Homo sapiens: one gene and its partners. The protein of the gene in region 4 interacts with the protein of the main gene of each other region in a biochemical or structural test. Each region holds a gene or a part of one and is shown on either strand. Other genes may lie near its edges. The genes, in order: SKP2, BCL10, PRKCA, IKBKB, NAA20, AURKA and PPP2R3C.

Region 1 (3,500 bases), on a different chromosome or scaffold from region 4:
TGAGTGGAGGAGGAGAGAGAAAATAAAACAAAGATGCTATCAATGGGTTCACCACCAAATGGAAGGAGCAAGGTCCTAGAAAACACACATACTCAGCTAGCAGCCAAGTACCCAGTGCTCTTACTCAGCTGACCACAGAATGACACTAATCCTAGGGGCCCCGGGTGGGGGTACCACAGCCTGATATGGGCTGCTGTCCCAGCAGATGGGGCAGAAGTTTGTCTTTAATAGCTGCTCTAGCAATAGGCATCCAGGCTGTGATATGCTTAATCTAATTTTCCTTGCCATATTTAATTCTCAAAACATTAGCCATCTGTTTCCTGAATTCATGATGAAACTGCTGCCTGGTCTGTTTGCAGAGAGCGGAAGGAAAAATCCAGAGGTCTTTTCTCCACTTGTCTCTGCTAAATCCAGCAAGGCTGTAGCTGCATACCAGACCCACATTAAAAGACATAATTACTGAGCCCAAGGTCTCCAGTCTTCAATGACATGGACGGCAGTTAAATATACTTCAGGGCCAGGAAAGGGCAAAAACTGGGCCAAACCAGCAAACCTACTACAATCACCCTCACCTACCACTGTTTCCAATTATTTCTCAGGTGCAAACCCAGTTTCCCACTTCTGTAACCTTATCACATCTCATGCTTCCTGAAATTCTCTGGGAAGAGGGCCTTGTTGGAGAGTTTTCTATGCATTCCATCTTTGCAGTGTAGGTAACTCATCTTACTTGACATATTTATTTCTCAGAATATCACTCCACTCATTTATTTCTCAGAACATCACTCCACTCCACTCAGATTCAAGCTGAAAATCCAAAGTAATGCTAATCATAATCAAACTTTTGACTTAAAAAATTGCTGCTCTTTAAGCATAATCAGATTATACTTGCAGAAATGTATACTGAGGACCTGGTACTCATACTTGTTTTTGTGTGTGTGTGCATTTCTTTCAGGGAGTTGGGGGGTGCTCACCTCAGAATTGCTTTTGCTGGCTTGTTTTAAGTAGCAATACCCCATGCTTTCTTTCTGGGGAACTACAAACAGATTGTGCCATCCCAGATGAGTTCTCCTTCCTCTTCCCACAAACCATAAATAATACATTTGAGGCCATGTTGGCTTTGGGTGTTTTTGTTTTTTTGGCTAAGGTGGGCAAAACTGAAAAAAACAAAACACAGCCAAACTTAACAAGGATTCCCCCATGTACCCCTTCAGTCCCACAACCCTTTATTTCTATGAAAGACTTGCTCAACCCTGAGGTGTAGGGGGTGTAATGAAGAAACAACAGAAGCTGGGATTTGGAAAAAATATGGAACAGTGTATAAGCACTATGAGGGCAGGGTCTCTTGCCTGTTATGTTCAGTATTGTAGTCCCAACCTCTAAAACGGTGCTTGAGAAATATTTGCTTAATGGATGAATGAAAGGAAGCTATGGAACAAAGAAAGATGACTGGGAAGATCCCATAAAGGCTCTTCCAGTGCTGAGTTTAGTAACTGTAGACTGAGACTCACATAGATCATGAAATCAATTTAGTGGGTTTGACTAGCATATATGTACATATAAAGAATGAACTAGAACAGAATAGAAAATATCTTAGTAAGGGGAAATACAGTTTTGTAAAACTGCTGTTTCAGATACATACCCAGGATTGCAATGTAAAATATGTTTCTTACTGGTTAAAAAAAAAAAGTTGGAAAAAATGCTTGCCTAAGGGTATTAAGACACAGATTCCCAGGCTCACTCAGGCCAGGACTCCCCGGATCAGAATCTCAGGAATTTTACACTTTGAACAAGTTCCTGTGGGGATTCTGATATACAGTAAATTTTAGTATCTCCAGTCTGACAACCACTTTAGGGTCTGGAATTTCAAGCATTTAAGAGTCATGGAAGAGCTGATCAACAAATTAGTTCACCTCCATTTTCATGGCTATCACCTGTTTAAAGGGTGGGGTGGGGGACAAGCATTTCATGACCATAAATAAAATGCAATTGTCCCCTTTCCGCCTGTTACTGACCTCATTGCTGGGCCATTTCCTCCCCAACTCTTTCCATACACTCACTCCAAGGGCCAATCAGACCTGTTCTAGTACAGGTTGGCCACAGAGCTTTCATCTTCCCAGATAAACGGATGAAGAGGATTTAGTTGCCAGATGTACGGCTGGACTGGGGCCTGCAGGGAGAAACTGCTTAGCAAAGAACCAACAAAAACTTGCAGCCCAGAACCAGTCATCAGATATCTATGTACAGCAGGTGTGGCCTGTTCTACCCTAATCCTGGCAAAGCTAGTAGCCACCTGTCCTGACAACTGCAGACAAAACTCCTTGGAATGACAATCCGGCTCCACTGGAGGCCCAGGCTTCCAAAGGCCCATTGGGAATCCTCTATACCAGCTGTCCCTCATCCTGCATCACTGATTTCACCCTTCCCCACTCCACACCAATTAAGCAATCTCTGTTGTAAGTCCACGTACATTGGTTTCCCTCTGTGCCTCTCCTTAGGTAATAAACATAAAAGTCACCATTCTTTCTCTCTCCCTTCAGATATATACTTTTGAAGTCAGCTTTAACCATCAAGACACTGATTACACCATTTTCAGAGCCCTCTCTTTCCTCAGAATCTCCTTTCTTGCTGAGTGGAAGGAGGAAGATCTTCCACATCCACCTGAATGGGAATCACAGCTCTTATTTTTTATTGTATTTTCTCCTCAACTTGACTTGCAAATTCCTGGGAAATAGCAAAGACTCCGGAAACTTCTGTCTTGTTCCCACAGTGCCTTGCTTAAAAAAAATTCTTTTTCACTTGTGGAAGGGCATATAGCAATCACACTCTATGTCAAAAGCTATCGGCACTGGACAGGTTAATAAAAATCTGTTCATCTTAGCAGGAAGTATCTTTCGCCATATTTGGTTGGTCAAGCACCAGATTGTTAGGGCTACATTCCAGACACAAAGAAGAGCGGTGAACATTAAATTTTGAAGAAAAAAAATTTTATACTAACAGGGTCAGAGTAACAATATTAAAAACAAAAGATAAAAGTCCACTAGCCTCCAAAATTGGTGTCAGGAATTTTGTTGGCTTATGTATTGTTACGTGTCAGTGGCATGCTAAGGGTTTTACGTCATTCTCATTTAATCTTCACGACGACCTGTGAAGTGGGTATTATTACAGCACTCCATTTCACAGATAAAGGAACTAAGGCAAAGAAAGCTCGAATAACTTTCCAAGGCTGATAAACGCAAGAATGAGGATTCAAACCCAGATCTGACTTCACTACAACCCTCTACTGCTTTTCTAACTAATCCAATTCCTGATGTATATTCCCAGACCATAAATTGGGCAAAGTTCTCTTTCCTAAAGAAAAGGCTGAAAACAAACGTATTTATTTTCTTAATTAAAAGTGGAATGCATCTCGAATCCGCATGTCTTCCTGCGCAGGGGCCATGCTAATCTTCTCTGTATTTCCAGTTTCAGTATATGTGCTGCCAAAGCGAGCAACCAACCAA
Region 2 (3,500 bases), on a different chromosome or scaffold from region 4:
TGGTATTAAATGAATACAAATACAGGATATTGAGAGATATTCCACTTTTTCAATGTAATAGTGTCAAATAAGGTAAAATAAGTGCAAATTGAATATAATTTTGAAGTTTAAACTTTTTGAAAGCAAAATGATCATTTCTGTTTTTGTTTTGCTTTTCTGAGACAGGGTCTTGCTCTGTTGCCCAGACTGGAGTGCAGTAGCACAATCATGGCTCACTATAGCCTCAATGTCCCAGGCTTAAGTGATCCTCCCACCTCAGCCTCCTGAGTAGCTGGAAACACAGGTATGCACCATCATGCCTGGCTAATTTTTTAATTTTTTGTAGAGACAAAGTCTCGCTATGTTGCCCAGGCTGGTCTCAAAACTCCTGACCTCAAGCAATCCTCCTGCCTTGGCCTCCTAAAGTGCAGGCACCTGGCCTGCTCTGCATTTTTTAAAAGCATTATTACATTTAAATTAGCTCTTAGATAATTAAGATATCTTACCTTTCAGATGTTCTAGTTTTATATTTCTAAGTTTCAGCACTTCATCTGTAATCTTCTGTATCAGGAAGTTCTGTGTTTTTTCTCGCCGAATAGATTCAACAAGGGTGTCCAGACCTTTTGGGTTTTCCTGTAAGTAGTCTAACAATTTTCCAGCCCTTTTTCTACTTGATGTTCGACAAGAAATTTCTTCAGTGTCTTCTCTACTGAGTATTTTTTTTGCACGTAGATGATCAAAATGTCTCTCAGCTATGATTTTCTCACACAGGTATACACGTAAATTTTCTAAGGCCTAAAAGACATAAAATATGGTTCAATGTTATTTTTAACATCTAAGAAAATCACATACGTGACTATTAGTTGGCAGTCTTAGCTGGTGTGAGACAATGTTCTAAAGTCAGGAGGCTCAGGCCTTCTAAAATGCATGCTAATTAAGATGAAAGTCCAAGTAGACACAAGTAGGTCCTAGACATTCCTCACTGCTTTGATCTCACCTTCAAACCTAAAAACCAAGACCAGGCTGTTGTGAAGAGGGACCAGCTGAATCTAGAGGGCCTGGGTCCTTGGAAACAGGGAGGTCTGTTGAGGGCCATCTTCGGGAGTAAAGATGAGGGCAAACACTACTGTACATTTTAGCTATCAGTTGGCAAGGAATGCAGAATTAGTCAGGACCAATAACTTAGTGAGAGGTCTCACAGTCTGTAACTTTCTCATGTTTGTTATTAATTACTCCATTTCCTTAAACTGTTAAAGACAAAAAACAAAACCCTAAACTGAAAGAGCCCATAATGTATCTGTCTTTGGGGTCAGCTGGAAAGACTACACTCTAACTCAGTGAATCAGTCTTGGTGGAAGGGAGATGGAAAGATGTGTGGGGAATAGGGAGTGTTCGAAAAATGAAAGAAATAAAGAAAAAGGACACCACAAAAAAGCAAACCTAGATTTGAGAAGTGCCTAAGAGCTTAATTAGTAGAAAATCCATGTTGATCTCAATAAATGGCATTAATAATTTGGTACCGGTGACTGTATTTTAGCTCCTCTATTTACTAGATATATGATCTTGGGCAAGTAATTAACTCCTCTGTGCTTGTTTCCTCAGCTGACTGTTATATGAGGAATAAAGATATGCAAAGTGCTTAGAAAAGCGCTTGGTACATAGTAAGTGATCAATATATGTTAGTAATAATGACAAAGGTAATGGCAGGAAAGTAGGCTAGGTGAAGGGTTCCTGTGGTTCTTGGTCTACGAAGTTCCACATTTACTTGTTTATTCACATGACAAGTATTTTACAAATCTAAATTCCTAATATGCCGAGTGCTGAGCACTGAGTATACAAAGATGAACAAGATTTGAATCCTACATGCAAAGGGCTCATGGTCTAGCTGGGAATACATATCACAGGTAATAATTATAAAACAATGTGATCGGGCCCAGAAAAAAAAGATTATAGGTCAAATACAGGAAAAGCACAGAGTGAGCAAATAACTATGTCCAGGACCTGGTCCTTATCATATCTGGCATGGACTATTAACAATAGAAACCTAGCTGCACTTACTACTTCCTTCCCCCTCCTCAACATTTCTCCTTCAGGAGAAAATGGAAATCTGGAGTATTATATGAATTTTACTAAATTTTTTTTAAGGATCTCACTCTGTCACCTAGGCTGGAGTGCAGTGGCTTGATCATAGCTCACTGCAGCCTGGAATCCCTAGACTCAAGTGATCCCCATCTTAGCCTCTTGAGTAGCTAGGACTACAGGTGTGAGCCACCATGCCCGGCTAATTTTTAATTTTTTTTTTTTTTTTTTGTAGAGAAGGGATCTTTGCTACATTACCTAGGCTGGTCTTGAACTCCTGGCCTTAAGTGATCCTCCCACCTTATCCTCCTGAGTTGTTGGGATTATAGGTGTGGGCCACTGTGCCCAGCAAATTCTAATATTGAAATTTTGTTAATTTAGAAAAAAAATTAAAAACAATGTTCTGCCCTGTCTTAAAGGATAAAGTTCCTTTACGTGGCAGAAGAGTAGAAAAGTTAAGGGCATGGCTCTAAAGTTGGATCAACCTCAGTGCAAATCTTGAATCTAGTACTCACCCTTGTGAGAGCTGGGCCAAGTTACTTCACCACTCCAAGCTCCAGGTATGTTATTGATAAAATAAGGATTAAAAACTTAACTCACAGGACATCAAGGAGGACTAAATGGGAATACTATATATGAAGGCCACGCATAGTCTCTGTACACAGTAAGTACTCAATAATAACTAATTATGGAAGACAAGGTTCATTGATAATATGGCTCCTACCTACCTCTCCAGCTTAATCTATCACTACCTTTGTCCTGAAAATTTATGCTCTACCTAAAACTATCTGTCTCTCTACATTTCCTTACGTATTTTTTGTCTGCTTTTATCAGACCCTAAAGCCCCTATTCGTCCTTTAAGATTTAGGTCAGTGGTCATCTTCTTTGGAAAGGTTTACCTAACTCCCCAGAATGAGTTAGGCACCCCGTCCTCTGTCCTTGTAGCACCTTGTGTATACACTTCATCTTTCTATACACCAGGACTCCACTTCTTTCACCTCATTTCCCAATTCATTCCCAGACATTTCCATCCTGCCCCAGTATTCTTCTCGAAGTCACCAATGACCCCCTTATTGCCAAATATTTTCAGTCTTCATTTCATTTTTCAGCTGCATAAACACAGTTGACTACTCCCTCCCTGAAACAAGAAAATTGTTACATGAATACCACACTCTCCTGGTTTTCTTCCCATCCCTGTGGATACAACTTTTCAATCATTTTCTTGTTGTTGTTGTTACCCTACTTTCAAGCTAACAATTCACTTTTTAAAATTCTTCTCTTTAAAGGGTTTTACACCATTTTTCTCTTCTAGCTCACAGCTTTCTAGGTAAAATCATTCAATTCCACACTTACATTTCTAGCTCAGATCTCTCTTCTGATCTTTGACTTTGCAGATGTAATTGCTGATCTGACATTTCCATGTACTAATCTAATTACATCCT
Region 3 (3,500 bases), on a different chromosome or scaffold from region 4:
TACTGTGAAGAGAGAAGGAAGAAAATATTACAAAAAGAGAACAGACCTATATTGCCCGCTGTCTTGTGTCAATACCAAGCTGAATAAAAGAGACGTCAGAATGGCGTTTAAGGAGACAGATGGTGGAAGCCAAAAGCCTCTAACACTCGACATGAGAAAAGCTACCCGCTGCCACCACCGGCAGAGATAATGGGCATCGTGTGGGCCCTTGTGGGTGGGTCTTGGGACTTAGCACCAGCCTGGACTGGCAGCATCAGCAACACTAAGATATCTATTAGAAATGCAGAAACCCAGGTCCCACCCCAAACCTGCCAAAGCAGAATCTGTAATTTAACAAGATTCCCAGGTGACCTTTGCAGCTCCCCAGGAGTAATGGTGCACCCTCCCTGCATGGAAGCGACCAGCCCAACCTGGTCTATGGTGCCACACACGCACCTGAGCTCCCAGAAGGTGTTATCCCTTTTTGTGGGTAAAGGCCAATGGCTTCCAACTCTGACTGTACATTGGAATCACATGGGGGTTGGGGAATGGGGGAGTTAAAAATTCTAATCCCCAGAATTAAACTAGAATCTCCAAGGAATGTGGCTCAAGTATTCGTTTTTAAAAGCTCCTTGGGTGATTCTACTGGGCAGCAGGGGCAAGCACCACTGCTGTATACAGTTGTAACTCAGAATTGCTGGTCCATGGACCGGCAGCATCTATATCACCTGGGAGCTCATTAGACATGCAGAACCTTGGGTCCCACCTCAGACTTAATAACTCAGAATCCTCACTTTAACAAGACCTCCAGGTGCTTCCAATGCAATCTTAGCTTGAGAAACCTGATATGGGAATCAAAAATAATTAGAAGGAAAGGCCATTTCATCCACAGAGGAAAACAGGCTCAAAGATTTAAGAGCTGGCAGAGGCTCACAACCATGAGAAGCTGTCTAAAGCCACTGCACGTCAACGTAAAAGATAATTATCTACTGCTATGATGAAGGGACAAAAGCCTGAGTCTCCTATCTCAAATGCCTTCCTATCTTCCCATGGCATCTTTCCCAGTAAGGCTGAATTATCAGATACCCAACTGGTCAGACACCATCAACACACATATAACTGGGACCAGGCTCCCTGATTCAGTGGTTCCCACAGTGTGGTCCCTGGACCGGCGGCACTGGCAACACCTCCTGAATCAGAACTCTGGGGTGAGGTCCAATGATCTGTGTTTACCAAGCCTCCAGGTGATTCTGATGTCCATAAAAGTTGCAGAACCACAGATCTAGGCAATTAGCATAGTTTATCAGCATAGTTTGATTATTAAATTAAGAATTACAGAAGAACTTGAGAAGAAGGCACTGGAGTTGTCAGTGGGCAGGGTTAGATGGGGAGGAGGCAGGGGGAGAACCCTAAAGATGTTGGGTCTTTGGACACAAATGAGGGAGGTACAGCCCTAAGATCGGAAGTCAGAGACAGGCATTGCCTTTACTAGTCTGTGGATCTACTGTGTTCTGCCTCCTGCCAGCCAACAGCCTTACATCCTCCTTACCTGGAAGCCTTACATAGGTAGGTAACAGATGGGACTATATTCAAATACAGAGGGGGAGGGGGCTAGCTCAGGTCTGCTAGCCACAGAGAAGCTGAACATAGTTTGTCATACCCCATTTGTGCCTTCCAAGTATTTCTTCTCCTAAGAAAATATCTAACCTCATTCATCTCAGGGAGCAGATAGCACACAAATAAAACACATAGGCATGGTCCCTGTGGCTCAGCAGGTGTACATGCAAACTCTGCCTCCTTCACCATGTAACCCTGAGCACTGGGAAGCTTAGTCTCTGAGCCTCTGTCTCTTCATCTAGAAAAATGAAGACGGACATAATTCCAGTGGTATAGAATTGTTGGGAGAATCAAATAAAATAATGTTTATAAAATACCTTACATGGTTGGGGGCTTGGAAAATGAAAAAATAAATCCATGGTGTGAGTGCTCACTATACCCCAGGCATGATGTTCCGGACTCCTTTCCACTCTTATCATGCTGGAATCTATAGGGTTGGAGGCCCCCAGGGGACTTGGTCACTGGAGAATTCACCAAGCTCATGTGAAAGGTTTTAATCCAATGCAGAAAGTCTAGCCCACTAAAACATCAACCCTGAGTATCACCAAAGATGAAAAATGTGAGCACAAAAATGGAGCTCTCCCATGAGGAATGGAAAGAGGCCAACGGTCTCTCTCTGATTAAACACCAGAATGAGAATCAGATGCTTTTTAAAAGGCAGAAAATGCCCTGGAATGTCTAATACTGGAGGCTGCAGAAGGTCACATCCTGGATAAGCCAAAGAAGACCCTTATTAAGGTCACCAAGAGGTCCTGGGTTGCCTCCTACCAGTTGCAGAATTATTGCGGGTGCTGGCTTTTATATCTTCAATTTATATTCCTGACAGACAACACACACAAAAAAAATCATTTAAGTAAGATCTCTTCGGAATGGTGATGAGTTAAAATCTTGATGGGATTTAAAGCTGTGAGTGTCCTACTGAGATACTACCATTTAAGTTGAAAATAAAAAGAGTTATCAATTCTAAATGTCATTGAAGCAAATAGTGGGTCCAAATTTCAATTTCTTATCACAGCAGAGAACAGCCTGTGTGAGTGTGACTCATGGCATGCCAGGACACCTGAATCAGGATTACGAGCAACTAACTTAGGGTCCCATCTGCTCAGAGTGTAGGATCTGGGGCAAGGCTGCCTGCATTTGAATTCTGGCTCTGCCACTCTGTGGTTGTGGACAAGCTATTTTATCTTCCTAAGTTTCCTCATCTGGAAAATTATATCTCCTTCAAGCAAGGATTATGTAGGCTCATCCATGTAAAGTGCTTAGAGCAGTGATAGGCACTCGGTGAGAGCACAATAGTGATGATCATAATTGCTCTTAATACAAGTTACTGGTGGAGAACAATCTTAGATGTGCAGAAACTGCACCAACAGCTTACGGAGTGGTAAGCAAATGCCGGGGAAAACAGTACAGTGTGGTAATGTTCTAACAGGGTTTCAACTGTATGGTTTCAAGAATGTCAGGCTAAGAGGCAATGCTAGGGGGCATTACTCATAGGAATAGTTGTAAGGAAGATGGAAGAGGGGAAGCTGGGGAAGCTAGGAAAGAGAAAATAAGAGGAAAATTGAAGTGGGGAAGCGGATGAGAACAAGGGCTAGAGACAGAAGAGAGAAACAAGGGAAAGATGTGATCAAGATGTGGAGTCAAATCCCAACACTTTGGGAGGCTGAGGCAGGTGGATCACATGATGTTGGGAGTTTGAGACCAGTCTGGCCAACATGGTGAAACCCCATTTCTACTAAAAATACAAAAAGAAGCCGGGCGTGCTGGTGGGCACCTGTAATCCCAGATACTCAGGAGACTGAGGCACGAGAATCGCTTGAACCCAGGAGGCGGAGGCTGCAGTGAGCTGAGATCATGCCACTGCACTCCAGCCTGGGTGACACAGTGAGACTCTATCCCCCCGA
Region 4 (2,659 bases):
GTCACAAGATTTATTAATAAAAGGGTTTGGCTTTTTAATTTGTATTTGTTTAATTTATTTGTTTTATGCAGCCTGGGTCTTGCTATGTTGCCCAGGCTGGTCTTGAACTCCTGGCCTCAAGCGATCCGCTCGCCTCTGCCTCCCAAAGTGCTGGAACTATAGGCATGAGCCACCATACCCAGCCAATAAAGGGGTTTCAATATATTTCTTTTTATTTTTTATTTTTTGAGATGGAGTCTTGCTCTTTTGCCCAGGGTGGAGTGCAATGGCACGATCTCAGCTCACTGCAACCCCTACCTCCCAGGTTCAAGTGATTCTCCTGCCTCAGCCTCCTGAGTAGCTGGGACTATAGGAGCTTGCCACCACGCCTGGCTAATTTTGTATTTTTAGTAGAAATGGGGTTTCACCATTTTGGCCAGGCTGGTCTCGAACTCCTGACCTCATGATCTGCCCACCTTGGCCTCCCAAAGTGTTGGGATTATAGGCATGAGCCACTGTGCCTGGCTGGGTTTTAGTATATTTCTCAATTGTCCTGATTTCCTCCTGAAGAGGAAAAATAACCTGAAATGTGTTGGTGGCTGTTGTTTTTTTAACATGTCTGTTGACTTTCAGGCCCTAGACTGGAGCTGGTTACAGACGGAAGAAGAAGAGCACAGCTGCCTGGAGCAGGCCTCATGATGTGGGGGGACTCGACCCCCTGACATGGGGCAGCCCATAGCAGGCCTTGTGCAGTGGGGGGACTCGACCCCCTGACATGGGGCTGCCTGGAGCAGGCCGCGTGACGTGGGGCTGCCTGGCCGCGGCTCTCACATGGTGGTTCCTGCTGCACTGATGGCCCAGGGGTCTCTGGTATCCAGATGGAGCTCTCGCTTCCTCAGCAGCTGTGACTTTCACCCAGGACCCAGGACGCAGCCCTCCGTGGGCACTGCCGGCGCCTTGTCTGCACACTGGAGGTCCTCCATTACAGAGGCCCAGCGCACATCGCTGGCCCCACAAACGTTCAGGGGTACAGCCATGGCAGCTCCTTCCTCTGCCGTGAGAAAAGTGCTTGGAGTACGGTTTGCCACACACGTGACTGGACAGTGTCCAATTCAAATCTTTCAGGGCAGAGTCCGAGCAGCGCTTGGTGACAGCCTGTCCTCTCCTGCTCTCCAAAGGCCCTGCTCCCTGTCCTCTCTCACTTTACAGCTTGTGTTTCTTCTGGATTCAGCTTCTCCTAAACAGACAGTTTAATTATAGTTGCGGCCTGGCCCCATCCTCACTTCCTCTTTTTATTTCACTGCTGCTAAAATTGTGTTTTTACCTACTACTTTGGTGGTTGTCCTCTTTTCGGCAAAGTTGGAGCGAGTGCCAAGCTCTCCATCTGTGGTCCTTTCTGCCAAGAGCGACTCATAGTAACCAGGATGGGAGAGCAGCTGCCTTATTCTGAATCCCAAAAATTACTTGGGGGTGATTGTCACAGAGGAGGGACAGAAAGGGTATCTGCTGACCACCAGCCTGCCTACCCATGCCCATGTCTCCATTCCTGCTCAAGCGTGTGTGCTGGGCCGGGGAGTCCCTGTCTCTCACAGCATCTAGCAGTATTATTAAATGGATTCATTTTAAAAATAGCTCCTATATTTTGTAACATGTCTCAAACACTCATACTGGGTTCCACAATCCACTGTTAGAATACCTATGGTTAGGGCTTCTGAACTAAAATAATGGAAAATTTTAACAATTTGTATAGTGCCTGGATCATTACTAGTGCCATAACCCTGCTTCTTCAACATTTCACAGAACTTCTCTTTTATATAAAGGCAAGAGCACAAAATGAGTTCAGATGATCACAAACAGGTGAGTTTTGTTGGAGAAGAAAGTTGGAGTAGGAGACTTTCACAAGTGGTTTCCATGGAGATAGAATGAAGCATTCTGTGGTCAAGTAAGTTTAGGGAGCTATTCATGTTTCACTTGCTTTGTGGAGATTCACACTATGCACTGGGAAAGTATCTGAAAAGTCTTATAATAAAGAAACAGGCTTAACTTTGTGTAAGAACACTGTTTATCAATGTCATTTGGCTATAGAAACATTTTCTCCTGCTGATTGTGTGTGTGAAACATGTATTAACATTCCAATGAACTAGCATTTAATAAAGCACAATTTTGGAAACCCTGGTAAATGACAGTGGGAAATAACACCCGAAAGGCAAGGACGGGCAGATTGGGGAGGGAAAGGATGTTGGGCTAAGGGCTGTGAGCTTATGTTACAGGCAACTGAGCCACTGAAGAATTTTGACGAAGAAAATGCCAACCAAAGCAGTCATTTTAAAAGTTTATGGCTGTTCAGTTACAGGACAAGTTGTGAAAAGAAAGAAAAAAAATGGAAAAAAAAAAAGTTTATGGCTGAAACAGTGTAATTGATTAAAAAGTGAAAATCCAGGCCGGGCGCGGTGGCTCACGCCTGTAATTCCAACACTTTGGGAGGCTGAGGCAGGCAGATCACCTGAGGTCGGGAGTTCGAGACCAGCCTGACCAATATGGAGAAACCCCGTCTCTACTAAAAATACAAAAGCCAGGCGTGGTGGGACATGCCTGTAATCCCAGCTACTCGGGAGGCTGAGGCAGGAGAATCGCTTGAACCTAGGAGGCAGAGGTTGCAGTGAGCAGAGATTGTGCCATT
Region 5 (3,397 bases), on a different chromosome or scaffold from region 4:
TTTGTATAATCATATCTGTGCAAAATAAGTAAGTTTTGTTTCCTCTCATATGTAAATACAATTGATTTTTATACTGACTTTATATCCAACAACTTTGCCTTTTATTAATTCTAAATATTTATATTCTTATGGATTTTATATTTATATAATCATATCTGTGCAAAATAAGTTTTGTTTCCTCTCAATCCTCCTATCGTTTATTTTTTCCTGCTTTCCTGTGCTATAATTTCTAGTAAATTACTGAAGCGGGACTAACTTGTCCCTAATTTCAAAAGGAAAGCATTCAGTGTATCACTACTAAATATATTTACTACAAATTTCTTGTAGATATTTTTCAGGTTAAGGAAGTTCCCCCTTTCTATTTCCCAGTTTGCTAACAGTTTTTATCAGGAAGGAATATTGGATTTTATCAAGTTTGCTGCACTTTCTAAAATAACCAGTGTTCTCCTTTAGTGTAAAGTTGAAACCACCTTGTTCCTGATGTGTCATCCTATTTATGTAGTGCCAAATCCACTTTGCTAATTATTTTTCCGAGATTTTGCATCTGAGTGAGATGTTCCTCGAATTTTCCTTTCCCATATTTTGCCAAGTATTGTTATCAAGGTTATCCTGGCCTTAAAAAATAAGTTGAGGAATGTTCCCTTTTTTGGCTTGTGCAAAATAGTTTGTGTAAAAGTGACCTTTCAGTCATTATTTCTTAAATGTTTAGTAAAATTGGCCAGAGAAGCCACAGCTTTCTTCGTGAAAAGATTTTGGGCTACTGATTGAAATTCTTTAGGGCAGGGGTTGGCTTATAACCTATTTTGCTACTGCCTTCAAGCTAAGAATGGTTTTTGCAATGGTTGTTAAAAACAAAACAAAACAAAACAAAACAAAAAACTATGTAACCAAGACTTTAGGTGGCCTGTAATGCCTGAATATTTACTATCTGACCCAGAAGAAAATTGCTGATTCTTGTTCTATAGGCTTGACAAATTTCTATCTCATTGTTCTATCAATTAGAAAAAAGCATGTCTAAATCTCCCATTATAATAATAATTTGTCTATTTCTCCTTGTAGTTTTGTCAATTTGTGCATTTTTACTTTGAAATGATGTCACTTGGTATATACCATTTTAAATCGCTATTTTTTTTTTTTTTTTTGAGATGGAGTCTCGCTCTGTTGCACAGGCTGGAGTGCAATGGCGTGATCTTGGCTCACTGTAATCTTCGCCTCCCAGGTTCAAGCAATTCTCCTGCCTCAGCCTCCCGAGTAGCTGGGATTACAGTCACGTGCTACCACACCCGGCTAATTTTTGTATTTTTAGTCGAGACGGGATTTCACCATGTTGGCCAGACTGGTCTGGAACTCCTGACCTCAAGTGATCCACCTGTCTCGGCCTCCCAAGGTGCTGGGATTACAGTCATGAGCCACCACTCCCAGACTTGTTACTTCCTTGATTAAATATTTTATCAATATGCAGTGACCCTTTTTTATGCTGGTAATAATTATTCAACTATAACTATTATTAATAAGTATTCTAACTTTCTTTTGGTTAGAATTTGCAAGGTAATTTAAAAATTTACTTTCAATCTTTCTGTATTAAAAATATTTTAATATATTTTACACATATTTCCTGTAAACAATACAGACAGCCTTTGTCTTTTAAATAGAGTCATCATAGCTGGCCGTGCATGGTGGTGGGCGCCTGTAATCCCAGCTACTCAGAGGGTGAGAGAGGAAAATCATTTGAGCCTGGGAGGCAGACGTTGCAGTGAGCTGAGATCACGCCACTGCACTCCAGCCTGAGCAACAGAGCAAGACCCCATCTCCAAAACTAATAATAAATAAATAAAGTCCTAAGTCCATTAACGTTTACTGTTGTAATTACTGACAATATTTGGATTCTGGGCTACCATTTTATTTCATGCATTTTGTTTTGCTGGTTTAATTTCCTTTTTCTCTTCTTTGGAGTTGACTTCTATCATTCAATTTTTCTTCTCCTCTACTTGTTTGGTTTCTATTTTTAATGTATACATTGTATGCACTATGTATACATGTATATAGTGTATATAAGCATATGTATATGTATCATGTATGTGTATATGTATATATATGCCTACAAATGAAGATTACTTAAATCTTAGCAACTAGTCTAAAATAATGAAGGCTTAGAAACTGGAAGGGAAGAGAGCTTAGTGGTCTTCTACTCAGAGGGAGAATCTATCATACAAATACCCTAAATTATATGTGCAAGGTCATAGCTAGTTACGACCTGCTTTTTTTTATTATTATTATACTTTAAGTTCTGGGATACATGTGCAGAACGTGCAGGTTTGTTACATAGGTATACGCGTGCCATGGTGGTTTGCTGCACCCATCAACTCGTCATCTACATTAGGTATTTATCCTAATTCTATCCCTCCCTTAGACCCCCACCCCCGACAGGCCCTGGTGTGTGATGTTCCCCTCCCTGTGTCCATGTGTTCTCATTGAACAACCCACTTTCTAACTCCCTGTTCACTATACAATAATGCCAAATACTTTTTTTCAACATAATGCCATTAATAAATGTGTGTAAACTATAATCATGCTAAAATTTTCTTCCCTTCTTTGTTTGGTCTAGAGAGAACTTTAAAAAATCTTAAAGATTAGCACCGACTTCTTTTTCAGCTAACACAATTTCTTCTCTGAATGAGTTTGAGCTCCTTTGCCTCTAATTTGGCTTGAAGTCTTTGTCAGGCCACAGATACTTCTTTAAAACTTGCCTTTATTAAATCTAATAATTAAGTAGAAATTAAGCTCAAGAACCCTTCTCAGCAACTATTCTCTTTCCTACCACACTTTTAGGAAATTACAGTGGAGAAAGAAATGGCAGCTTGACAACAGGTGAAGCTACTACAAACATCTCTCTTCTAGAATGAAGATACGAGGAGGGGCCTTCTCTTCTATTTATTGTATTTCTTTTATCTCCAGTAATGAAGAGGTTTGATATATACAACACGTCCCTTAAAAAAAAAAAAAAAAATGCCATGCTGGCAGTTCGCAAACTGTGCACTCAGGTGCCCTAAGGTGTCCCAAACTCATACAGCCACCAAAGGATATTTCGAATGTTCAGGGAAAACAGCAAAACCTTACATGTCAGATATTGGCAAACTAGTTTGAAGTAGTTCACAAATTCAACGTAAGATCATGCTACATTCCTCTTAATGACATAATATTTCTATGAAGCTGAGTTTCTGGCAGTTGCTGTGATTAAAAAAAAATACTAGATGAAAATCAATATGAAACAGGAATGCAAGTGGTTCTGCCAAGTCATTTAATGTCCAACAGGTGCACACCTCTCATTGGTAGCTAGCCACAGTTATTTAAGAATGAAATGAAAATATTTCTTCTTTCAATTTATTTTTTTTCTAAA
Region 6 (3,500 bases), on a different chromosome or scaffold from region 4:
GTCCAGGGACTCGTTCTTGAGTCACCCCAGACCCTTGATCTGGCAAAAATGAGACTGACCCAGCAAGGAGGGAAAGACAGGACGACTAGGTGGTAGATAAACCTGGAAGTGAAGTGAAGAAAAAAGTGTAAGATGTGATCAACCTTGTCAGATTCTGCTGAGGATGCAAGTACGGGGAAGGTGGAATTGACCCTTGGGTTTGGCAGCAGTAGGTGTCAGCCATGAGCCTGACAATGTGGTGGAGACAAAAAAGCCAGGTGGGGATGGGCTCAGGGGAGGGGAGAGGAGCAGTAGAGGTGGCAAGTGTGGACGGTTCTTCTGGAGCTTTGCTGTTGGAGAGGAGGGGGTCATTGTTAGCAACGATAATAGAATAAAGAGGACTTTTATTTTATTTTATTGTTTTGAGACGAAGTCTCGCTCTTTTCCCATAGGCTGGAGTGCAATGGTGTGATCTCAGCTCACTGCAACCTCTGCTTCCTGGGTTTAAGTGATTCTCCTGCCTCAGCCTCCCGAGTAGCTGGGATTACAGGTGACTGCCACCACGCTCAGCTAAGTTTTGTATTTTTAGTAGAGACGGGGTTTCACCATGTTGGCCAGGCTGGTCTCGAACTCTTGACCTCAGGTGATCCGCCCACCTCGGCCTCCCAAAATGCTGGGATTACAGGTGTAAGCCACCATGCCCGGCCTAAAGAGGACTTTTTTAAGGTAGCAGGTATGCCAGTAGGCTGCACAGGGATGGAAGTGATCCATTAGAGGAGAGATGATGGAGCAGCAAGACCATCAGGAGTGAAGACTCCGTGACAGAGGATGGGACGCAGTGCCCAAGGGGAGGTTGGCCTTGCAGGGAAAGCACATGCCTGTCCCTCCCTCATTAGCTTCATTTGGACAAAACATGTAAAATCCGGTGTGTTGTGGAGGCCTTTTGATTGGGGAACTGTAACGCTGCCTATCGAGCAACAGCACTTTAAGCAGGTGGCTTTGTTCAAATTAAAGGTTCTTCTTTTTCTTTTCAGGCATCATGGACCGATCTAAAGAAAACTGCATTTCAGGACCTGTTAAGGTAAATTGAATAATCTGTAATCTCATTCACATTTATAAACCCACATGGAGGTTGGTCTTGTCGGGAATTCTTTCCGCCTTTACTTTGGATTTAAATTTAGATCCCTTACTGTGATCCTGGATATGAATTAGTCACTTTTCTCGTGTTCAGTAACATTTTGCTGCTTCTTAGAGTAGCTTTTTTGTTCTGCTTTGTCTTATAATCGGCTGCTTAAGTTTCTATATCCCTCCACTGTATGCAGGATAATAGTAATAATGCATCTGGCAGGAGTTCAAAACTTTTAAAATTGGCCATAAATATAAAATAATTAGAAAAAGGCTACCTTGAATTACTGTATTTGATTCTAAGTTCCTATGATAACGGCCATTTAAAAAATTGCTCTATATTTAAAATGTTTCTTTTTATTTGTCTTTGTCTGAATGCCTGCTGCGTTGTGGACAGTGTGCTAATTTCAGGAGTAACTGACTTTGTATTTGGAAGTCTTAACACCCTCTCTTTGTAGAGCACTCATACCGTTGAGCTGGGGATGGACTTTGAGGCTTTCATTTCTAGCACTTGTCCCTCACTTACAATGAGCTGTTGAAGCTGAAGGAAATCTCATCCCTCCTACCCCTTTTAGTTTGATTAGCTGAGGGTGTTAGAGTTAACTTAACAATTTAAGGTTGTAATACAGTACTTACAGGCGTATAAATAATACATTTCAAGGCTGGGCGCGGTGGCTCACGCCTGTAATCCCAGCACTTTGGGAGACCAAGGAGAGTGGATCACAAGGTCAGGAGTTCAAGACCGGCCTGGCCAAGATGGTGAAACCCTGTTTCTACTAAAAATACAAAAAATTAGCCAGGCGTGGTGGCAGGCGCCTGTCGTCCCAGCTGCTTGGGAGGCTGAGGCAGAGAATTGCTTGAACCTGGGAGGCAGAGGTTGCAGTGAGCCGAGATCATGCCACTGCACTCCAGTCTGGGTGACAGAGCAAGACTCCATCTCAAAAATAATAATAATAATACATTTTAGTAGTAACTTTGTGAAGTGTCTACATTTGTTTCCTCTTTGTCAGTTTTTTGCTCAATTCCATTTTGTCAATACTTGGAAAATGAAACATTGGTTAATCAATAGTACAGTAATAAGCTTATTGTGGAAAATCTTCGATATATGAAAACTTAGACTCTTCTAAAACTTCATGAAGATAATACCACTGTTGAACGTTTTGACGTATTTTTTTTTGGTCTTTTTCTTAAACGTATATTATCAAAGAAATTTCAATGGAACTGAGATTTTGGCATAAAGTTTTTGTATCATAGCTTTTTGCCAAATAGCAATGTAGTGTCTATTTCCAAATTATTGAGAAATTTTAGAAAGTGTCTCCTTCATTAATGGATATTTGTTAATAAAGCATGATTTTTAGGGGTGAGGAATTGGAGGGGATAGAAGGTATCATTCAGGTATTCTTAGCCACATACTAACTATCCTCTGGAGGTACTGATTAAAATACCTTTTCACCTTCCATCTCTTATCAGTGACATTCATTATTTTGCTATACTAGAGAACAAACTTTGTGAAATTCTCAATATATTCATCTTTTGCTTTCATGAATGCCAGAAAGTTTATTTTCTCTTCCATTCTAGGCTACAGCTCCAGTTGGAGGTCCAAAACGTGTTCTCGTGACTCAGCAATTTCCTTGTCAGAATCCATTACCTGTAAATAGTGGCCAGGCTCAGCGGGTCTTGTGTCCTTCAAATTCTTCCCAGCGCATTCCTTTGCAAGCACAAAAGCTTGTCTCCAGTCACAAGCCGGTTCAGAATCAGAAGCAGAAGCAATTGCAGGCAACCAGTGTACCTCATCCTGTCTCCAGGCCACTGAATAACACCCAAAAGAGCAAGCAGCCCCTGCCATCGGCACCTGGTAAACTAGCTTTTGAGACTCATTGGATAGTCCTTCTTTGTCGTCGTTGCTAAAAAAGCCAGTGTATATACTTGCACTTATTGTTTGGAGCCTTAGCTTTTATATCTGTTGAGGATGGGGAGAAAATATGGTGTCTGGGTTGAAGTAACAGTGTCTGCCCATGGGCCAGACCTATGCTAAAAATACAGACCTGATTCTCACCCTCTTGGAAGAGTTGGGCACCCAGGGAGGACACAGCATAAATTGGTGTCCTTTTGATTGCTTGTTACTGAGTCTGGATGTAGGGTGCTTGCAGTAAGTGACTTGAAGGGACTGAGATCTAAAGTGTGGGGGAAATCCAGAGAAGTGGGTGAACTGAGGCAGGCTGCGGTGAGGTCACCATGGGCATTGCTGGCCATGTTAAGGAATGGGGCCTCATCTCTAGGGCATTTGGAAGCTACTGAAGCTTTTTTGAACTCAGAAGGGAACTCTGCCTTTTAGAAAGTTTACTGTGGAAGGCCAGGCGCAGTGGCTCACGCCTGTAATCCCAGCGCTTTGGGAG
Region 7 (3,500 bases), on a different chromosome or scaffold from region 4:
ATTGTCCACATTTTATGTGTAAGGCAACTGAGACTTTGCTAGGTTACATATTTAAAAGTGGCATTCAAACTCCAATCTGGGCTAGGTGTGGTGGCTCACACCTGTAATCCCAGCACTTTGGGAGGCTGAGGTGAGAAATCACTGGTGCCTAGGAGTTCAAGACCAGCCCTGGCAAGACAGACCTCTTCTGTACAAAAAAGCAGCAGCAGCCAGGCGCAGTGGCTCACACCTGTAATCCCAGCACGTTGGGAGGCTAAGATGGGTGAATCATCTGAGGTCAGGTGTTCAAGACCAGCCTGGCCAACATAGTGAAACCCCATCTCTACTAAAAATAGAAAAAATTAGCTGGATGTGGTGGTGGGTGCCTGTATTCCCAGCTACTTAGGAGGCTGAGGCAGGAGAATCGCTTGAACCCAGGAGGCAGAGATTGCAGTGAGCTGAAATCACACCATTGCACTCCAGCCTGGGCAACAAGAGCGAAACTCTGTCTCAAAAAAAAAAAAAAAAAGAACAAGAACAAGACAAAACAAACTCTGCTCTTAAACCACACCTGTTTACCTGCGTATTGCTTTCTAGTCCAGAACCTGCCAAAAATAAATGGAGACAGTGTCCCTGTTCGTGTACCAGCAGTACTATATCTATAATCACAACTTTTTTGAAAATCTGACATCAGTATAATTTTAGAATTTACCACTTAGATTTATATAGTTGAGGTATACAAGTAGAGATGTTATTAAATGTTGCCTGTAGGTTTCTCTTTTTTTTTTGCAGGGTGGGGATGGAGTTTTGCTCTTGTTCCCTAGGCTGTAGTACAATGGCTTGATCTCAGCTCACTGCAACCTCTGCCTCCCAGGTTCAAGCGATTCTCCTGCCTCAGCCTCCAGAGTAGCTGGGATTACAGGCGCCCTCCACCACACCCAGCTAATTTTTTGTGTTTTTAGTAGAGATGGGGTTTCACCATGTTGGCCAGGCTGGTCTGGAACTCCTGACCTCAGGTGATCCACCTGCCTCAGCTTCCCAAAGTGCTGGAATTACGCGGTGAGCCACCGCGCCCAGCCGAGATTTCCCTTTTTGTAGCAATATGTAATAAGGACTTTGGAGCATAAGAGCTAGAAGCTTTAAAATATCAATTGTGTGATTGCTCTTGTTAAAAAAATTTTTTTTTAATTAATTGAGTTGCTCTTTTCTTAAAATGAAATTAATTGTGTTTCTTTATGTTCTTAAAGGAAAGATAAAAATTCAAGATATTTTAGCATGCAGCTTCCTAGATGATTTATTGGAGGTAAATGTTTTTAAACTACTTAATTGTATCACTTGACAGTTGCTATCTTCTAATTATGTCTTTGTGTTCCATTAGCTAAGGGATGAGGAACTGTCCAAGGAGAGTCAAGAAACAAATTGGTTTTCTGCTCCTTCTGCCCTAAGAGTTTATGGTATGTTCCTATCATAATGCTAAAATTTGAATTATCCATTCTTCAGGAAATTGGTGTTCAGAGGACAGTTTTATACATACACTGATATACCTTAAGATCAAAATATTTAATTACCTTAAGCTTTAGTATTCTACATTACCAAAATTTACTTGTTTAAATACCGATGTTTTAACTTTTTGGACTCCCCCCAACCTTTTCTTTTTGAAGACAGGGTCTCACTCTGTCACACTGGCTGGAGTGCAGTGACATGATCACGGCTCAGTGCAGCCTTGAAGTCCTAGGCTCAATCCTCTCACCTCAGTGCCCCTACCCCACCCACCCCACCACCCCCAGTACTGGGTCTACAGGCGCCATGCCTGGCTAATTTATTTTATGTTTTTTTAGAGATGGGATCTCACTGTGTTGCCCAGGCTGGTTTCAAACTCCTGGGCTCAAGCAGTCCACCTGCCCTGACCTCCCAAAGTGTTGGGATTATAGGCATGAGGCACTGCACCCAGCAGAACCCTTTTTAAGTTATACACTTCCTTTTCAATAGAACAGAATGTAATTTGATCCTTGTTGACTCAGGAGCATCATTATGAACATTAGCTATTGTCATGCTTTGTTGATAAAATGCTATTCCCAGGGTCTACTGATGGAGCTAATCTACATTATCTTGTTGGGTGGTCTTTTGACTCCTTTGGCTTTTTTTTTTTTTTTTTTTTTTGGAGATAGAGTCTTGCACTGTTACCTGGGCTGGAGTCCAGTGGCATGATCTCGGCTCACTGCAACCTCCACCTCCCAGGTTCAAGTGATTCTCCTTGCCTCAGCCTCCCAAGTACCTGGGATTACAGGCGCTCGCCACCACACCCGGCTAATGTTTTTTTTTTTTGTTTTTTTTTTTAGTAGAGACGGTGTTTCACTATGTTGGCCAGGCTGGTCTGGAACTCCTGACCTCTGATCTGCCCTCCTCAGCCTCCCAAAGTGCTGGGATTACCGGCGTGAGCCACCACGCCCGACCTCCTTTTGGCATTCTTATCTCTACTTTCAAGTGCTAGCATTTCAGTGCTTTTTGTTGGCCTCTACCTCCATTTAATTTAGAAACCTAGGAATGTTTAAAAAGACTGCAAACTGAAAACAAATAATGATGTAAGTGAAACAGCCCAGAGACTATGGCCTTCATGATGGGTTTTTTTGGCTGTTTCTAGCCCAAGGGTTTTTCTGATCAAGATTGCAAAGGTAGCTGATAGTATTACACATAGGCCACTACCCTAATCATAACATGAATAGTTTGAAAATCAAAATATTAACCAAGAAAAAACTTTTTGTTAGTCTATTCTTCTGATTAAAATTTTATTGTGGTCATAAGTGTCTTTATTATTTTTCTTCCCAAGGCCAGTACTTGAATCTTGATAAAGATCACAATGGCATGCTCAGTAAAGAAGAACTCTCACGCTATGGAACAGCTACCATGACCAATGTCTTCTTAGACCGTGTTTTCCAGGAGTGTCTCACTTATGATGGAGAAATGGTAGTAGTTTAAATCTGCTGCTAAGTTTTAAAAGTTTAGGCTCCCAGAGTTTCCACAAACCCTTTTCTTGATGTAATACAGCCCTTTTTTTTTTGAGACAGAGTCTTGCTCTGTCGCCTAGGCTAGAGTGCAGTGGTGTGATCTCCGCTCAATGCAACCTCCACTTCCTAGGTTCAAGTGATTCTCCTGCCTCAGCCTCCGGAGTAGCTGGGATTATGGGTGCATGCCACTGCATCCAGCTAATTTTTGTACTTTTAGGAGAGATGGGGTTTCACCAGGTTGGCCAGGCTGGTCTTGAACTCCTGACCTCAGGTGATCTGCCTCCCAAAGTGCTGGGATTACGAGGCGTGAGCCACCACACTCGGCCCAGCATTATTGATATCACTGTGTAACAGTGTCTTTAAAATGTGTAAACTGATCAAATTACTTGAGATTCAGAGTCTTTGGTCTTAACGTAAATTAAAACATCTGCATTATGGCCTCAGGGCAAATAGAAAAGCTTATTGTTCATTTCATTGTCAGTGCACCTACTGTACAGTAGTGCATTCTAGTTTTTT

The links.
Region 1: the proteins of IKBKB (region 4) and SKP2 form a complex in vitro, tested with the Homo sapiens proteins (one study listed by BioGRID).
Region 2: the proteins of IKBKB (region 4) and BCL10 form a complex in vitro, tested with the Homo sapiens proteins (2 studies listed by BioGRID, with this or other methods).
Region 3: the proteins of IKBKB (region 4) and PRKCA form a complex in vitro, tested with the Homo sapiens proteins (one study listed by BioGRID).
Region 5: of the proteins of IKBKB (region 4) and NAA20, one has a biochemical effect on the other in vitro, tested with the Homo sapiens proteins (one study listed by BioGRID).
Region 6: of the proteins of IKBKB (region 4) and AURKA, one has a biochemical effect on the other in vitro, tested with the Homo sapiens proteins (one study listed by BioGRID).
Region 7: the proteins of IKBKB (region 4) and PPP2R3C form a complex in vitro, tested with the Homo sapiens proteins (one study listed by BioGRID).

Annotation. Positions count from the first base shown.
Region 1 is NC_000005.10:36,155,111-36,158,610, reverse strand, and holds part of SKP2 (S-phase kinase-associated protein 2), read right to left. Parts: intron 1-3,500. UniProt on the Homo sapiens protein: Substrate recognition component of a SCF (SKP1-CUL1-F-box protein) E3 ubiquitin-protein ligase complex which mediates the ubiquitination and subsequent proteasomal degradation of target proteins involved in cell cycle progression, signal transduction and transcription.
Region 2 is NC_000001.11:85,270,133-85,273,632, forward strand, and holds part of BCL10 (B-cell lymphoma/leukemia 10), read right to left. Parts: intron 775-3,500; coding exon 486-774; intron 1-485. UniProt on the Homo sapiens protein: Plays a key role in both adaptive and innate immune signaling by bridging CARD domain-containing proteins to immune activation.
Region 3 is NC_000017.11:66,683,613-66,687,112, reverse strand, and holds part of PRKCA (protein kinase C alpha type), read right to left. Parts: intron 3-3,500; coding exon 1-2. UniProt on the Homo sapiens protein: Calcium-activated, phospholipid- and diacylglycerol (DAG)-dependent serine/threonine-protein kinase that is involved in positive and negative regulation of cell proliferation, apoptosis, differentiation, migration and adhesion, tumorigenesis, cardiac hypertrophy, angiogenesis, platelet function and inflammation, by directly phosphorylating targets such as RAF1, BCL2, CSPG4, TNNT2/CTNT, or activating signaling cascade involving MAPK1/3 (ERK1/2) and RAP1GAP.
Region 4 is NC_000008.11:42,330,302-42,332,960, forward strand, and holds the end of IKBKB (inhibitor of nuclear factor kappa-B kinase subunit beta), read left to right. Parts: exon of another isoform or gene 1-38; intron 39-612; coding exon 613-678; 3' UTR 679-2,159; downstream 2,160-2,659.
Region 5 is NC_000020.11:20,027,362-20,030,758, reverse strand, and holds part of NAA20 (N-alpha-acetyltransferase 20), read right to left. Parts: intron 1-3,397. UniProt on the Homo sapiens protein: Catalytic subunit of the NatB complex which catalyzes acetylation of the N-terminal methionine residues of peptides beginning with Met-Asp, Met-Glu, Met-Asn and Met-Gln. Proteins with cell cycle functions are overrepresented in the pool of NatB substrates.
Region 6 is NC_000020.11:56,385,716-56,389,215, reverse strand, and holds part of AURKA (aurora kinase A), read left to right. Parts: intron 1-431; exon of another isoform or gene 432-807; coding exon of another isoform or gene 808-904; intron 905-1,013; coding exon of another isoform or gene 1,014-1,018; coding exon 1,019-1,060; intron 1,061-2,682; coding exon 2,683-2,959; intron 2,960-3,500. UniProt on the Homo sapiens protein: Mitotic serine/threonine kinase that contributes to the regulation of cell cycle progression.
Region 7 is NC_000014.9:35,094,491-35,097,990, reverse strand, and holds part of PPP2R3C (serine/threonine-protein phosphatase 2A regulatory subunit B'' subunit gamma), read left to right. Parts: intron 1-1,226; coding exon 1,227-1,282; intron 1,283-1,357; coding exon 1,358-1,433; intron 1,434-2,806; coding exon 2,807-2,943; intron 2,944-3,500. UniProt on the Homo sapiens protein: May regulate MCM3AP phosphorylation through phosphatase recruitment. May act as a negative regulator of ABCB1 expression and function through the dephosphorylation of ABCB1 by TFPI2/PPP2R3C complex.